Regions from separate parts of the Homo sapiens genome. Here region 1 is linked to region 2. A link means that fine-mapping ties the variant in region 2 to the expression of a gene that starts in the linked region. Tissue or cell type: monocytes. Region 2 holds a variant in brackets; the other region holds the start of a gene. All regions are shown on one strand. Distances are between the middles of the regions.

Region 1 (8,103 bases), 59 kb before region 2:
CATGGGGGGATGCAGACAGGTGGCAAAACCTGGGTCCAAGATATATTTGTCCCAGATATATAAATTGTCACTTTTCTCCCTCCCCTTCTGACTTGCACACTTACAAAGAAGGTTCCTCTTCCTTTTCTAACCATCCCCCACCAGGGAATTTTTCAGGCCTTACAAAGAAGGGAGAGGACCCAGGCCAGTTGGGAGGGTACACGTGGACCTACATCACTCTTTTTGAGGAAGTGAGTAGGGAAACCTAGTTATAAGGAAGCAAGGAAAATAGAGGGAGAGTGAGTACTAAGGCCAGCGCCGTCTATAAACAGAACAATTCCCGTGTGACCTGAAGGTCTAGGAAGACCCGAGGTGAGAAATCTTCACTCCCCTGCCTACTATGGTGCGCCGGATCCCGCCATTTGCACATCTTTGGGCATCTCAGCATCCCCTCTCATGGTCAGAAAGAAATCAAATGAGGATTCAAGTAGGTGCCTGATACTTTTCTTTTAGACTAACCAGAGGAGCCTCTCCCATTCCCCTTTTCCCTGGTCCCCACAAACATCATATTGTTTTAATCTGTCTCCAGGTATAACAATAATAAGACAAAGTCCTTACCCTCAGAGAGCTCACAATATTTTGGTGGAGGTTTGGGTATAAAGGCAAATGTGAAAACATAATTTTACTATAATGGGGTAAAGTTAAGAAAGAGATCTATGCAAACATAGAAAGGAGTGCACTTAAGTCAGTGAAGGTTTTCTGGCTTAGAAGAACCCTGACCTAAAGGAAAAGTAAGAGTTACCTAGATAAGAGCAGGGCAGAACAAGAGAAACTGATCCCTCCACTTCTATTGAGTCACCTGAAATTATATTCATTTTTTGGCAGACATATACCTCCCCCAAACATTCGGCTCTAGTTGTGCCAGTTCTTCCTTGTCAGCCCTCTTACCTTGGCCTGAGGCTTCATTGTCTCCAGTCAGGCGACTATCTCATAGTCACACTCCACTCACGGCAGCCACATTCTGTATTCCAGAACAGCACTTCCTGACAGCACTATAACATTTTCTAGCAGCCACATTTAAGAGGTCAAAAAACAAGTGAAATATTTTACTAATATATTTTATTTAACCCAACATATCTAAAATATTTAAACCATATTTTTAAATTACTGAAATATTTTACATTTTAAAAATATTGTCTTTGAAATTAAGTGTATATTTTATACAGCACATTTCAATTCAGTCTAGCCACATTTCAAATGCTCAATTGCCACATGTAGCTAGATAGTGGTTATACTATGGAGCTCTAAAATTCCGCCCAGACTGAGTGTGCTTGGTGTTTCTCCATTAAACAGATGAGGCCCATCAGTCTGAGGCACAACTATGTATTTTCTCTAAGTCTCTGTACCCCCAAGGCCTTGAAAACAATTCGGAAGGAAGAGAAGGCCTATGAGGTTTCAGCTACAGCAGGCACTCCCTTTAGATGCCAAGCCTAGAAAACCCTAAACTGATGCCTAACTTGCAGCTGAATCACCTTTCAGCAATCAGATTCAGTGCCTCACCAACACATTTGATCCAGGGAGTCTCCAGTTTGTCCTTTGTCCAGTAGAAGACCCACTACAAAGCCTTGATAATTCATCAAAGTGACAGCACCTTCACTGGGCAGTCTGGTGAGAGGACATCTAGCCCTGCCACCCTGGTTCCTGTTGGGAACAGTATCAGATACGTTGTGTTAGATTCACATGAATCTAAGAATCACATGGGCGAAAAATATTGAGAGCATTCTGTTAAAACATTTCCACAAATTGGGAAAAGACCATCTTTAAAAATCTGTTGGGGCCGGGCGCGGTGGCTCACGCCTATAATCCCAGCAATTTGGGAGGCCGAGGCGGGCGGATCACAAGGTCAGGAGATCGAGACCATCCTGGCTAACACAGTGAGACCCTGTCTGTACTAAAAATACAAAAAAAAAAAAAGAAAAAGAAAAAGAAAAAAAAAATTAGCCGGGCGGCGTGGTGGCGGGCGCCTGTAGTCCCACCTACTAGGGAGGCTGAGGCAGGAGAATGGCGTCAACCCGGGAGGCGGAGGTTGCAGTGAGCCGAGATCGCGCCACTGCACTCCAGCCCGGGGGACAGAACGAGACTCCGTCTCAAAAAAAACAAAAAAATCTGTTTACAGAGGTAAAAACACGGGTATTACATGGAGCATAATTTGAAATCCATTCCCTCATATTCAGCCAAGAACTACAGGCCCAGAGAAGGGAAGTGATTTGCCAAAGGTCATTCAACAAATCCCTAGGGGCTGTGATGATCCGTGTCCTTGCCATTACCTCCCTTGTCTCCACTAACAAAAATATTTCAATGGGAGAATGTGCCGATCTAAGGCACTCCTAAAGTACTTGCTGAGAATGACAGCCCTGGGGAGACAGGTCGGCAGCCCTGAACAGGCACTGCCTTACCCGGGCGTAGTGCCCCAATTCGCCACCTCTTGGAGTCCTAGGCGGAGGATACTACTGGGGCAGTTGTTTCGCCAATTCCACATCTCCCGGAGCCTGGCCTGGCCCAGCCCAGCCCCGTCGCTGTGACCCACTTCCTAGCTGCAGGCTGGACCAAGGGGAGGCACATGGGGAGCTCCACAGGGAGGCCACGCCCACGAGGGCAGCTCACAGAATTAGAAAGCCGACGGGGTGCTGTGGTCAGGAGGCGCGTGGGCGGCAGGTTAGTACTTAAGGTGCAGAGACCACCCCCAACCCTTTGACTGGCGGTGGGCATCCCGGAAAGGCATGGCTCGGCCAATTCCAGCCCCGTTTCCACGCTCAGCACCCGCCCTGCCTGTGCGCGAACGGCTCCGGCCCGCACGGGTCGCCAGAGGCGACTGTGTGACACTCGGAGTTTGCTGGGGTCTCCGTGGGCGGGAGGACTTTCCAGCGCAATGGCGACTCCCTAAGCCCCGCAGCTTCTGCGCCCGGGAAAGATATCCAAGAGATGCAAAGCTCTACTGGGCCCAGGCTGCCACCCCAGAGGCCCCCTTCCGTCCCGGGGCCGGGGCTAGGCCAAGGCGGGCACCAGGACTGCCCAGCCTCCCGGCCCTTCGCACTGGTAACCGGTTCCGGGGCGGATGCTTTTTGCATCTGACCCGGCGCGCCCGGTGACGCCTTCGCGTCCAGACGGAAGTGCGGGCGGAGGATCCCCAGCCGGGTCCCAAGCCTGTGCCTGAGCCTGAGCCTGAGCCTGAGCCCGAGCCGGGAGCCGGTCGCGGGGGCTCCGGGCTGTGGGACCGCTGGGCCCCCAGCGATGGCGACCCTGTGGGGAGGCCTTCTTCGGCTTGGCTCCTTGCTCAGCCTGTCGTGCCTGGCGCTTTCCGTGCTGCTGCTGGCGCAGCTGTCAGACGCCGCCAAGGTGAGTCCCGCCCAGCCTCGCTCCTGACGGAAGCTCCTCCCCTACCACCGGCCTTGCGGAAACTGGGTCTGCCAACCTGCTCCTTGGCCCATTCCTGACAGCCATACGCCTGGCCTCACAGCTCCGGCAGACCCCCGCCGCCACCAGCCCCGCCCCTCCCGACTGCCCGGCGGCACTCTCGCCCTCAGCCCCGACAGCCTGGCAGGCAGCGCCCCACGGTCGTCCCCAGCCCCGACAGTGCCCACAGTCCGGACAGCAGCCCCCCACCGCCTTAACATTTCCCTTCCCAGCCCCGGCTGCACGCATCTTACACTTGACAACCTTTTCACCTCCGAGAGCCTTTAACTTTCCACCCTAAGCTCTTGACAGCCCACCTGCGCCCTCCGCCAGCCTCACAGGCCCCGCATGCCCCAAGCCAGAATGATAGGAAGCCCCCATCTGACAGAGCCTTCCCTGTCAAGGGCCGACTCAGCTCAGCTCACCCCTGAACACTTCCCTTCCTGTGGTGGGAACTTGCCCCTCCTGGCCTACTTCCCTCCCAATAGGGCCTACGGAGCATCTCTCACCTGCTTCATATTCTCACCTAACTCCCTCCACGAGTCCCTTGGTGCCTTTCTTGCTTTCTCTCTTCCTGATAATTTAGTGGGTAAGGGAAGAACCAAACTGCAAGAGAGGTGAGGTTGTGGCCTCCCTGGTTCGATTTCTTGACCTTCTAGTTCCCTCATACTGTTCTCTGGTGCCCCAGCTCTCCAGACCTGCCCTAGCTCCATGCATACCTGTGCTTCCTCTTTGATGAGCTAGCTCATCATTGGGGGAGAACAGAAGGGATTCACATTAGTATGATGGGAAAACAGAATGACATTGCGTTTTTAAAAATAAGAGCTTTAATTTATAATATCTTTAAATGTAGGAGTGGGGAAAGGTTACAGGCAGGCAAATGTTTTTGATTCAGAGATTCTTTTTGAAACCATCTCTACCTCCTACCAGAAACAGGGACAGCAGCACGTCTCCTGACTTTGAAAACATTGCTGGCACCCTCTGCATATCTTGCCTCATAACTTTATGTATTGTGATCATGTATTTATTTTTCAGTCTCCTTTACTAGGGTGTGTCCTGGTTATGGGCAGAAACCATGTCTTATGCTTATCTGAATCCACCTTATTGAGCACAAGATCTAACACAGAGCAAATGCTCACTAAGTGGTTGCTGAATACGTTTGTGAATTGTCAATAGCTCTGCCAGACATATCACTGTATATAGGAGGAGTGGGCAAGGTCCTCTGGGGAATGATAAGCCACTTCCTTCTCAAACAGATTCCCCTTTGCTGAGGAAGCATCTCTTCTTTTCTCTATCCAGATACTTAGTCACCTGTTCCTCCACCTCTTGAAACTTGTTTTGTTGGTAGTTGTTCTGTCTGTCAACCAGGAATTAGAAGCAAAGTTTCCTGGGAAGAGTATACTAAACTGATCTCAGAGTCAGGCTACTTCCTGTGTGTACTTCCTTTCTAGTTGTAGGTGGGTGCCTCTAACATTTCATCCCTTCTACGGGACTCTGGCCCAACCCGTTTTATCAATGTCAGTGCCTTCTACCAGAGGGTGAAAGGATGATAGGTAGAATTGTGACCTTTTTTGTGAATAATTTTTAGTTTCTTTCCCATCCTTTAGTAATGAATATTCTTATTTACAGGCACAACTATCTGCTTACCATGTGTCTTTCTAGTGGCAGATAGATGGTAATAACATTAACATAATTTGATTGTCATGTGACCCATAAATATGGTTAATAAGTCTTAGATCATGTATTAGGTATTATTTCAAAATAACTACATGTAATATATAATGATTCATTGGCATTACCATAAAGGACTGTGGCTTTTAAAAACTGTGTCTGTTAAAGTTTTAAATGAATGATTTTAGAATACTTGGTATTCTAAAGAGGATGCTTGGCAAAATGTATATGGTACAGTTTTTAAAAATATTGATGATAAACTGTCAACGCACTATACTGTTTCCATTTTGGTTACAGAATTTCGAGGATGTCAGATGTAAATGTATCTGCCCTCCCTATAAAGAAAATTCTGGGCATATTTATAATAAGAACATATCTCAGAAAGATTGGTAAGTATCTGGATTACTGAATTACCTGTCACATTTGTTTCTGTGGTTGTCAGTGTTATCCCAGAATGTTCATCAAATGCATAGTTTTCTTTTTAAGTATTTCATTTGAAGCAAAAATGTGAAATTCTACTTCCATTTGAAAAAGTGAGAGTGAGGCCCTACGTGCATGATGCCTGCAGGCCTAAAGGTATACAGCCAAAACACTAAGACCCATGTAGGCAGAGTTTCATGGGAGCATATGACTGGGTTTGTGGCACCTAAACTACCCATAGCTATCTTGCTGTACTCCCTCAAGTTTTGGTGAGGGACCTTTCTCCCTCTTGCTTTTCAGTGGAAGGTTAGCAAGCCTCGTTTGTCTGGGTTATAATTTTTACAACTTGTAGGTTTTGATGATGTATTGCCAAGTATGGGAAGCTATGTTTAAAAGTGTCAGAAGGCTCAAGAAGAAGTGGAAATGAGCTATGTAGTCAGAGTTTCCCATTTGGTGTAAATGAAGAAGTTACAGTTGTGCCAAGATATTGACCTGTTCAGTCCTTGGGCAGTCAGGCAGGCCTGTGATGACTGGGGGATCCTGACTGACTAGCCACCAGCAGCCTTCTCTGCTTATCCCAGCAGACCTGACAAATAGCTTTTTCTACGTGTGCCATGAAGCAGTTGGGATGCAGTTGTATTACAGCAGGATGAATGTGTTCCTTCCCATAGAATTGTGATGTTTTATGGTTTGTAACCACGGTGGAAGATGGATGGGATAGGAATTTAGGAAAAATAGTTCCAAATGGTAGGAGCTTTCACGTGTATCTGATTTCATAGCTAAATAGCCATCAAAGAGTTAGAAAGCAAGATTAAATTCATTCAGTTAACAGTATTCCAACCTGACTTTAAAAAAGAAAAGGCAGCCTTTGAGTATGTTTAGTTTCTCTGATGCCACTGTCTGTTCTTCCCTGATACGCATTTAGGTTCAGTCTCATATTTGTTAAGTGTGTTCTTGAGAACTTCTTGTGAACCTCTATGTTCCACTGTAAGTGGTGTCATATTAACCAAGCGATTTGGCCATATTCTTAAAGGTTTTATATCAGGAAGTTACTTTATATGATACAAGAATGTTCAGGCCGGGCACGGTGGCTCACGCCTGTAATCCCAGCACTCTGGGAGGCTGAGGCAGGCGGATCACCTGAGGTCAGGAGTTCGAGACCAGCCTGGCCAACAGAGTGAAACCCTGTCTCTACTAAAAATACAAAAAAAATTAGCCGGGCTTGGTGGCGGGTGCCTGTAATCCCAGCCACTCGGGAGGCCGAGGCAGGAGAATCGCTTGAACCCGGGAGGCAGAGCTTGCAGTGAGCCGAGATCGCGCCACTGCACTCCAGCCTGGGTGACAGAGCGAGACCCTAGCTCAAAAAAAAAAAAAAAGAATGTTCAAATAAATCTTTATGTTACTTCTATAAATTTTCCAAATTTATTCAGTGCTTACAGTTTATTCTGTTATCAGTAATGAAATGCAATGCCTGTCTTTTGAGTAGCAAATGAACTCACTATTCAAGTGGTTAGCACTAATCTTTTCACTAACTTTTCATTATTTCAGACTCAGACAGGACCATATGTCATTAACCCCTGGTTATTAGTAAAAATAGCTTTGGCTTTGAAAACAGTTGAGGCAGGACATGGTGGCTCACACCTGTAATCCCAGCACTTTGGGAGGCCAAGGCAGGTGGATCACTTGAGGCCAGGAGTTCAAGAACAGCCTGGCCAACATGGTGAAACCCCGACTCTACTAAAAATATAAAAATTAGCTGGGCATGGTGGCACACGCCTGTAATTCCAGCTACTCGGAAGGCTAAGGTAGAGAATCGCTTGAGCCGCAGAGGTAGAGGTTGCAGTGAGCTGAGATTGTGCCACTGCCCTCTAACCTGGGTGACAGAGCATGACTCTGTCTCAAAAAAAAAAAAAAAAAAAAAACAGAAACAAAGAAAATAAACAGTTGAGAATAAGGCTTGCTTGGGGTTTTTCTTCCCTCTCTCCCACTCTCCCTTGTTTCTTTTCTGCAGCTTAGCATTTTTCTAGGGATAAGTTCCCAGCTGGCACTGAAAAATTTTAACTGACTTTACGGGGCAGGCAAGTTATGATTCACCAGAATTATGGCTTTACGAGGCCTCCAGTATCTGTGAGGGCCTAGATATAGTTTTACCTTTTGTTTTCTGGGCCTTTCATTTTGTCCAGTTTTTATCTTTAAGTCTTCATTGACTTATGCTGGCTGACTTAAAACTTAAGAGTAGTTGGAGTGCTCTAGTTTGTGTTTGGGGTGATTTAAAGCTAATGATGTGTTACTTTTGGCACTAGGGGGAGGTGTTGCCTAGTTCCTTAAGTGGTTAACCTCTGACTAGGTCTAGCTCTGTTTGTAATGACTGGTCAGCCAAAATCAACCTTCCTGCTTTCTCTCCAGCTGGGCACAACTTTTGCACAGCACTCAAGTATCTTTTTGTTATTAAAATATATCCTTCAAAAGAAATACTCAATACTTACTTAGCACTTAAAATTCCCAAGTCATTCTTAGGTATTGTTGCCAAAGCTTCTGAAGCTGAAGTAGGAAACTAAATAGATCAGTTTCATTTTCCCG
Region 2 (8,106 bases):
TAAGATACCCGTTAACTGCTTTTACAATAAGTGTGGTTGGAGTGGGACAGAATTTGGTCCTCTTTATTTTTTATGGATTTCAAGGTTTTAGCACATTCCTCATAGGGTTATTGTGAATATCAAGTAAGTTAATATCTATAAAGTGCATTTATAGTACTTGGTACATAGTAGGTGCTCAATAAATATTAGCTAGTATTATTATCTTAAGCTTCAGCCTGGTCTCCCAAAATATGCTCTCACTTACCCAGTATCATAGCCACACCTCATCTCATTTGTCTCTCTTCCCCATTCTATTTTAGTCATTCCAGTTGAGGCACTACTTTCTTTTTGTCAGGTCAGCTCTTTGAAACTTTTCCCAGTGGTTCCCAGTTGCCACCTCTGTTGCCATAGCCTTAAAAAAATTTTTTGTGTGTACTTTTCCAATCTAATTTAAATTATGTGTAGTTATGGTTTCTTCTCTCCCAATAGCCTTTCAATTCCTTGAAGGCAGAAACTGTTCCTTATTTGTCCCTAAACATTCCAGGACCTGTTAAGTAGCGGGTGTTCAGTAGCCATTTGTTGAAATTACTCTGATTTAATTTTTAAGTTAAATAGACTTCTGTTAGCCCACATAAAGAGGTGGCTTTGTGGTGGCTCACACCTGTAATCCCAGAAGTTCAGGAGGTTGAGGTGGAAGGATTACTTGAGGCCAGGAGTTTGACAGCAGCCTGGGCAACATAGTGAGACCCCTGTCTCTATTTTTTAAAAAATTAAAAAACTAGCCTGGCATGGTGGCTCATACCTGTAGTCCTAGCTACTCGGGAGGTTGAGATGGGAGGATTGCTTGAGTCCAGGATGTTGAGGCTGCAGTGAGCTATGATCGTGCCACTGCCCTCCAGCCGGGGCAACAGAGTAAGAACCTATCTTAAGAAAAAAAAGAGTTGGCTTTTCTATTAAAAAAACACCTACCTACATGAACTTTAATGAATGTAATGAATATTCAATTGTAACTACATTTTCTCAGAATTTAACATTTAGAAATTTATGGGAAAGAAGATGCTTGAAATGAAACTGAAACCAAAAGACTCTAAATTAAATCTTTGCATTTGTTTTTATTTTTCTATTTGTAAATATATTTGTAAATATATTTTTATATGTGCATATTTATAATTTTAAAGATTCATCCTGTAAACCACAGATTGAGAGACTTGAGAGATTCCTTTTTATCTTTTTTAAGATTGGCTGGGAATAATGATAGAACATGACCTACCATCAGGCCCCTTGTGGATCAAATATAGCCCACGCCAAATGAAAGCCACTGGTGAGAACTGAAAATGGAATTGTAAATGGAGAGAGGGCAACTAATTAGGAATGTGCCTGGTCAACAGGGAAATAGACTGTCAGTATTGACAGAAAAATAAACTATTGATATGAGTTTTTAATGACTTCTATCTTCACAAGGGTAAATTCACTAATGAGAACAGATGAAAGTTAGTTGTCAGGGTTCTATGTTTTGGAGGAGATGCGTTGGAAGAGGTCTTTAATTGTGAAATGGGGAAAGAGACTGGTGCTGTATTTGGGACTTTTTGAGGAGAAAAAACAAGTCCAGTGAAGAGCAATGTAAATTCCTTTTCTTTATGTGAAGGGGGCCAAAAAGGGTTAAAAACCCAGGATGCAAAAGTGGGTACTGTGCCAGAGTTAGACAGTGATTTATACTGTACATACCAGAAACTGTATAAATCATTTTATTTGACAAATGGTATTGTTATTTCTCCAGCAGACTTAAGAGCTTTGGAATCATCACAGCTTTGTAAGGTAGTATTACAGACTGAGTCATTAGATCATTCATTTTGCCTGATTACATCATCTCACTGGGTTATTGGGGGAATGAAAGAAACTCATTATCAAAATTGTCATCTTGATGATGTAGATTAAAGAAAATGAATCAAACTTCTGAGAATTAACTTTCACAATCTGTTTAAAATTGACTGGGAGTTAAAAAAATTGGTTGCAGAGCAGGAATGATTGAAATCTTGTCATTTTTAAAAGTCAGAGATCAAAGGAATAGTATTTGGAAGATATTTAATATAAACAGTTGAAATTTATGTAGAGTTTTTTTTTTTTTTTTTTTGAAGACTTCTTGGCTGGGCGCGGTGGCTCACACCTGTAATCCCAGCACTTTGGGAGGCTGAGATGGGCAGATCACGAGGCCAGGAGATTGAGACCATCCTGGCTAACACGGTGAAACCCCATCTCTATTAAAAATACAAAAAATTAGCTGGGCGTGGTGGCAGGAGCCTGTAGTCCCAGGGGAGGCTGAGGCAGGAGAACGGCGTGAACCTGAGAGGCAGAGCTTGCAGTGAGCCAAGGTCGCGCCACTGCACCCCAGCCTGGGTGACAGAGCGAGACTCCATCTCAAAAAAAAAAAAAAAAAAGAAAAAAAAGACTTCTTTATTGAGGTATAATGTACATATGATAAAATTTACCTGTCTTAAGTGTATATTTCAGTATTTTTTGTAAATTTACAGAGTTGTCAACATCACCAAAGTGCAGTTTTGGAACACTGTCATTACCTGAGAAAAATCCCTAGTGTATACCATATGCAGTCAGTTCTCAGCTCCTGCCTCTGGTCCTAGGTGACCAGTCTTCTGCTTGCTGTCTTATGAATTCGCCTTTTCTGGACAATTCATATAGATGGAATCTGATAATATGTGACCTTTTTTTGCCTGGCTTCTTTTAATTAGCATAATGTTTTTGAGGCTCACACATGTCGTAGCATGTATCAATACTTCATTCTTTTTTATGACTGAATACTATCCCGTTATATGAATATATTACATTTTGTTTATCCATTTACTGGTTGATGGTCATCTGAAATGTTTCTGGTTTGGGGCTATTTTGACTGATAATGCATAGTAAGACTTTGTGTGGACACATGTTTTCATTTCTCTTGGGAATACAGACTTGAGCCGCCGCACCCACACCAGATGTATGATTCATAAGTATTTTCTCCCAGGCTGTGTCATGTATTTCATTTTCTTAGTGGTGTAATTTGAAGTACTAACATTTAAAGTTTTGATGAACTCCAACTTATTAATTTTTTTCCTTTATAAATTGTGCTTTTGGTGTTATATCTAAGAAATCTTTGCCTAACCTAAGGTCATGAAAATTTTTTTTGAAGATTTTTTCTATGTTTCCTCCTAATAGTTGTATATTTTAGTTTTTACATTTAACTCTATGCCATTTTGCATTAATTTTTATGTGCATTATGAGGTAAGGGTCTAGATTCATTTCTTTTCATGCAGATGTTCAATTTTCTCAGTATCATTTGTATAAAAGACTATCCTTTTCTCATTAAATTCCCTTGGCAACTTTGTCAAAAATCAATTCACCATAAATGTAAGAGTTAGCTTTTAGACTTTAAATTATGTTCTATTGATCTATATGTCTGTCCTTATGCCATATTATACTGTATTGATTATTGTAGTTTTGTAGTAAGTTTGGAAATTGGGAAGTATATCAACTATGTTCTTCATTTTCAAAATTATTTTTATATTCTAGTACAGTCATTATTTCCATAAAATTTAAATTCAGTTTGTCAACTTCTGTGTAACAACTGTTGATGTTTTGATAGAGATTATATTGAATTCACAGATTAATTGAGGAAGAATTGCAATCTTAACAATATTGGGTTTTTGAATTTATGAACATGGAATGTCTGTCCATTTATTTCAGTTTTCTTTATTTTTTTTACTAATATTGTGTAGTGATTAGTGTACATATTGCACTTCTTTTAACAAATTTATTAAGTATTTTTATGCTGTTGTGAATGAAATTGTTTTCTCAATTTCATTTTCAGATGAAATTATTACTAGTGTATAGAAATATAGTTGACTTTTTCATATTGATATTGTATCCTGTAACCTTGTTAAACTCATTTACTTGTTCTAAGAATTTTTTTGTGGATTCTTTAGGATTTTCTGTATACTGGATCAGATCTTCTGTGAATAAAGAAAGGCTAACTTTTTTCTTTTCAATCAGGACTTCTTTTTCTTGCCTAATCGCACTGGCTTGAACCTGTAGTACAATGTTGAATAGAAGTGGCAAGGGGAACATCTTTGCCTTGTTCCCAATTTTAGAGGCAGAACATTCAGCCTTTTACCATTAAGTATGATATTTGTTTTTTTGTAGATACTCTTTATTAGGTTAAGGAAGTTCTCATCTATCTTTAAAAATTATTTTTAATTAGCTTCTTCAGGTTGAGAAGAAGTTTCCTTCTATTCCTGGTTTAGTGAAAGTTTTTATCATGAATGATTTTTGAAGTTTTTCAGACGTTTTTTGTATGTCCATTGATGTGATCATGTGGTTTTTATTTTTTATTCTATTAACATGTGTTGAATGAATTGATTTTTGGATATTAAGCCAATCTTTCGTTGTTGAATTTGGTTTGCTAGTATTTTACTGAGGATTTTTCTGTGTATATTCATGAGGGATATTGATCTCTAGTTTTCTTGTTTCTGGTCTTTGTGTCTTTTGGTATTAGGATAATATTGGCCTTATAGAATGATTTAGGAATGTTCTATTTCTTGGAAGAGTGTGTAGAATTGGTATTATTCTTAAGCATTTGATTAAAACCATCTGGGCCTGGGCTTTACTTTGTGGGAAGATTTTTAATTACTAATTCAACTTTTTTCCTTGTTTTAGGTCTACTTATATTTTCTATTCCTTCTTTTTTTTTTTTTTTTTTTTT[TG/G]AGACAAGGTCTCACTCCTGTTGCCAAGGCTGGAGTGCCGTGGCATAATCACAGCTCACTACAGCCTCAACTCCCTGGGCTCAGGTGATTCTCCCACCTTAGCCACTCGAGTAGCTGGGACTACAGGCATGCATCACCACTAGGCCCACCTAATTTTTTTGGTACTTTTTGTAGTAGAGATGTGGTTTTGCCATGTTGCCCAGGCTGGTCTTGAACTCCTGAACTCAAGTGATCTTCTATTCCATCTTGAGTCAGTTTCAATACTTGGTGTCTAAGAATTTGCCCAGTCACTTAAGTTGTCTAATTTGTTGACAAAAAGCTATTGGTAATATTCCCTCACAATCTTTTTTATTTCTTTAAGATCTGATTATGGTAATCTGTGCCTTCTCTCTCTTGCTTTTTTTTTTTTTTTTTTAACATCTTGGTCAGTCTAGTTAAAGTTTTGTCAACTTGTAATATCCTTTTTTTTTCTTTTGAGACAGTCTCACTCTGTCACCCAGGCTGGAATGCAGTAGTGCAATCTCAGCTCACTACAATCTCCGCCTCCCAGGTTCAAGTGATTGATTCTTCTGCCTAATCCACCCAAGTAACAGGGATTACAGGTGCATGCCACCACACCCGACTAATTTTTGTATATTTAGTAGAGACAGGGTTTCACCATGTTGGCCTATGCTGGAGTGAAACTCTGTCTCAAAAAATAAATAAATAAATAAAACTTTAAAAAATACAGATGGCCAGGTGTGGTGGCTCATGCCTGTAATCCCAGCACTTTGGGAAGCCAAGGTGGGTGGATCATGAGGTCAAGAGATCGAGACCATCCTGTCCAACATGGTGAAGCCCCATCTCTACTAAAAATACAAAAATTAGCTGGGTGTGGTGGCGCATGCCTGTAGTCTCAGCTACTCAGGAGGCTGAGGCAGGAGAATTGCTTGAACCTGGGAGGTGGAGGTTGCAGTGAGCCGAGATTGCACCACTGTGATCAAATGTAAATTCAGCCATCTCGATAATAATGTTAAATGTGAATGGTCTCAACAGCCCATTCTATAAGCAGAGATTGTCAGACTGGCTTAGATCCAACTGTCTGTCTACAAGAAACACAACTTATAGTCAAACACACAAATAAGTTGAAAGTTAAAGAAAAAGATATACCATGTAAACTATAAGCATAATATTGCTGGAGTAAAGAAACAGAATCCTGCAGATACCTTGATTGTAGTCCAGTGAAAACCATTTCAGACATCTGACTTCCAGAACCTTAAGATAATAAACTTGTGTTGCTTTAAGCGACTCCCCTTGCCAAAAAAAGATTGCTGAAGTAAATGTATTAACATCAGACAAAATAGACTTGAAGACAAGAAATATCACTAGACAAAGTGGGGCATATCAGAATCACAAAAATGACAAATCATTACATCTGGAAGATATAGCACTTGCAAATGTACATGACCCTAACAACACAGCCTCAAAATACCAAAGCAAAAACTGACAAAATTCAAGCAAGAAATAGACAATTCAACAGTGGTAGTTGGGGACTTCAACACCTCACTCTTTTTTTTTTTTTTTTGAGATGGAGTCTCACTCTGTCACCTACACTGGAGTGCAGTGGTGTGATCTCAGCTCACTGCAGCCTCTGCCTCCTGGGTTCAAGTGATTCTCCTACCTCAGCCTCCTGAGTAGCTGGGATTACAGGCGCGTGCCACCACACCCGGCTACTTTTTGTATTTTTAATAGAGACAGGGTTTCACCGTGTTGGTCAGGCTGGTCTTGAACTCCTGACCTCATGATTCGCCCACCTCAGCCTCCCAAAATGCTGGGATTACAGGCATGAGCCACCGTGCCCAGCCCAATCCTCAGTCTTAATAACTGATAGAACAAACAGAAAATCAGCAAAGATATAGAAGGCTAAACGATACTGTCAGCCACCTTGACACCTATAGGAAACTCCATCCAACAATAGCACAATACACATTCTTGTCAAATACTCCCAGAACATTCTCCAAAACAGACCATTATTAGGTCATAAAACAAGTCTCAATGAATTTAAAAGGACTGAAATCATACCAGGTATGTTCTCTACCCACAATAGAATTAAATTAGAAATCAACAATAGACAATTTGGGGAATCTACAAATATTTGCAAATTAAACAACGCATAGGTAAATAATCCATGGGTCATAGACTAAATCACAAGGGAAACTAGGAAATGTTTTGAACTGAAAGGAAACAAAGATGTGATATATCAAAATGTATGAGAGGCAGCTAAAACTGTGATTAGAGGGAAGTGCCAAGCTTTAGATGTCTATATTAGAAAAGAATATAGGTCAAATCAATAACCTAAGTTTCTACCTTAAGAAACTAGGAGCCGGGCATGCTGGCTCATGCTTGTAATCCCAGCACTTTGGGAGGCTGAGGTGGGCAGATCAGTTGAGGTCAGGAGTTCGAGACCAGCCTGGCCAACATGGTGAAACCCCGTCTCTACTAAAAATACAAAAATTAGCCAGATGTGGTGGCATGCACCTGTAATCCCAGCTACTCGGGAGGCTGAGGCAGGAGAATCACTTGAACCTGGGAGGTGGAGGTTGCAGTGAGCTGAGATTGCACCACTGCACTCCAGCCTGGGCAATAGAGCAAGACTCCATCTCAAAAAAAAAAAAAAAAAAGAAAAGAAAAGAAAAGAAAGAAAAAGAAAAACTAGGAAAAGAAGAACAAACTAAACCCAAAGGAAGCAGGAGGAAGGGTATAATGATGATTAGGTAGAAATCAATAAAATACAAAGTAGAAAAATAGAGAAAAATCAATGAAACCAACAGTTGGTTCTTTGAAAAGATATTAAAATTTGGGCCAGGTGTGGTGGCTCACGCCTGTAATTCCAGCACTTTGGGAGGCCAAGGTGGGCAGATCAGTTAAGGTCAGGAGTTCAAGACCAAGGTTTCACTCTTGTTGCCTAGGCTGGAGTGCAATGGCATGATCTCGGCTCACTGCAACCTCTGCCTCCCAGATTCAAGTGATTCTCCTGCCTCAGCTGCTCAAGTAGCTGGGGTTACAGGTGCCCACCACTATGCCTGGCTAATTTTTTTGTATTTTTAGTAGAGAGAGGGTTTCACCATATTGGCCATGCTGGTCTTGAACTCCTGACCTCAGGTGATCTACCCACCTCGGCCTCCCAAAGTGCTGGGATTACAGGCATGAGCCACCGCACCCGGCCTTTAAAAAAATTTTTTAGTGATTGTTCTAGGAATTAGAATATGCATCTTTATTTGTCACGATCTACTTCTTTCTTTTTTTTTTTTTGAGACAGGGTCTTGCTCTGCCACCCAGGCTGGACTGCAATGGCGCAAGTGTGGCTCACTGTTGCCTCCACCTCCTAGGCTCAAGT

What was found. PIP is the estimated chance that this variant, and not a neighbour inherited with it, causes the effect.
Region 1: TMEM9B starts here. The variant in region 2 is fine-mapped to the expression of TMEM9B in monocytes (BLUEPRINT, PIP 0.95).

What each region holds. Positions count from the first base shown.
Region 1 is chr11:8,959,481-8,967,583 of GRCh38, reverse strand. TMEM9B (TMEM9 domain family member B) reads left to right here and starts at 3,142. Exons shown (of 5, transcript NM_020644.3): 1 at 3,142-3,375; 2 at 5,401-5,492. The coding sequence starts at 3,271. TMEM9B-AS1 (TMEM9B antisense RNA 1) reads right to left here and starts at 2,909. Exons shown (of 5, transcript NR_073431.1): 1 at 2,436-2,909; 2 at 1,540-1,680; 3 at 928-1,043. RefSeq lists silencers at 2,949-3,448, 3,489-3,678.
Region 2 is chr11:8,900,514-8,908,619 of GRCh38, reverse strand. It overlaps a transcript of DENND2B not described here. Among named protein-coding and RNA genes, the nearest start is that of AKIP1, 6.6 kb to the left of the region's middle. The variant TG/G (reference allele first, on the strand shown) is at 4,730.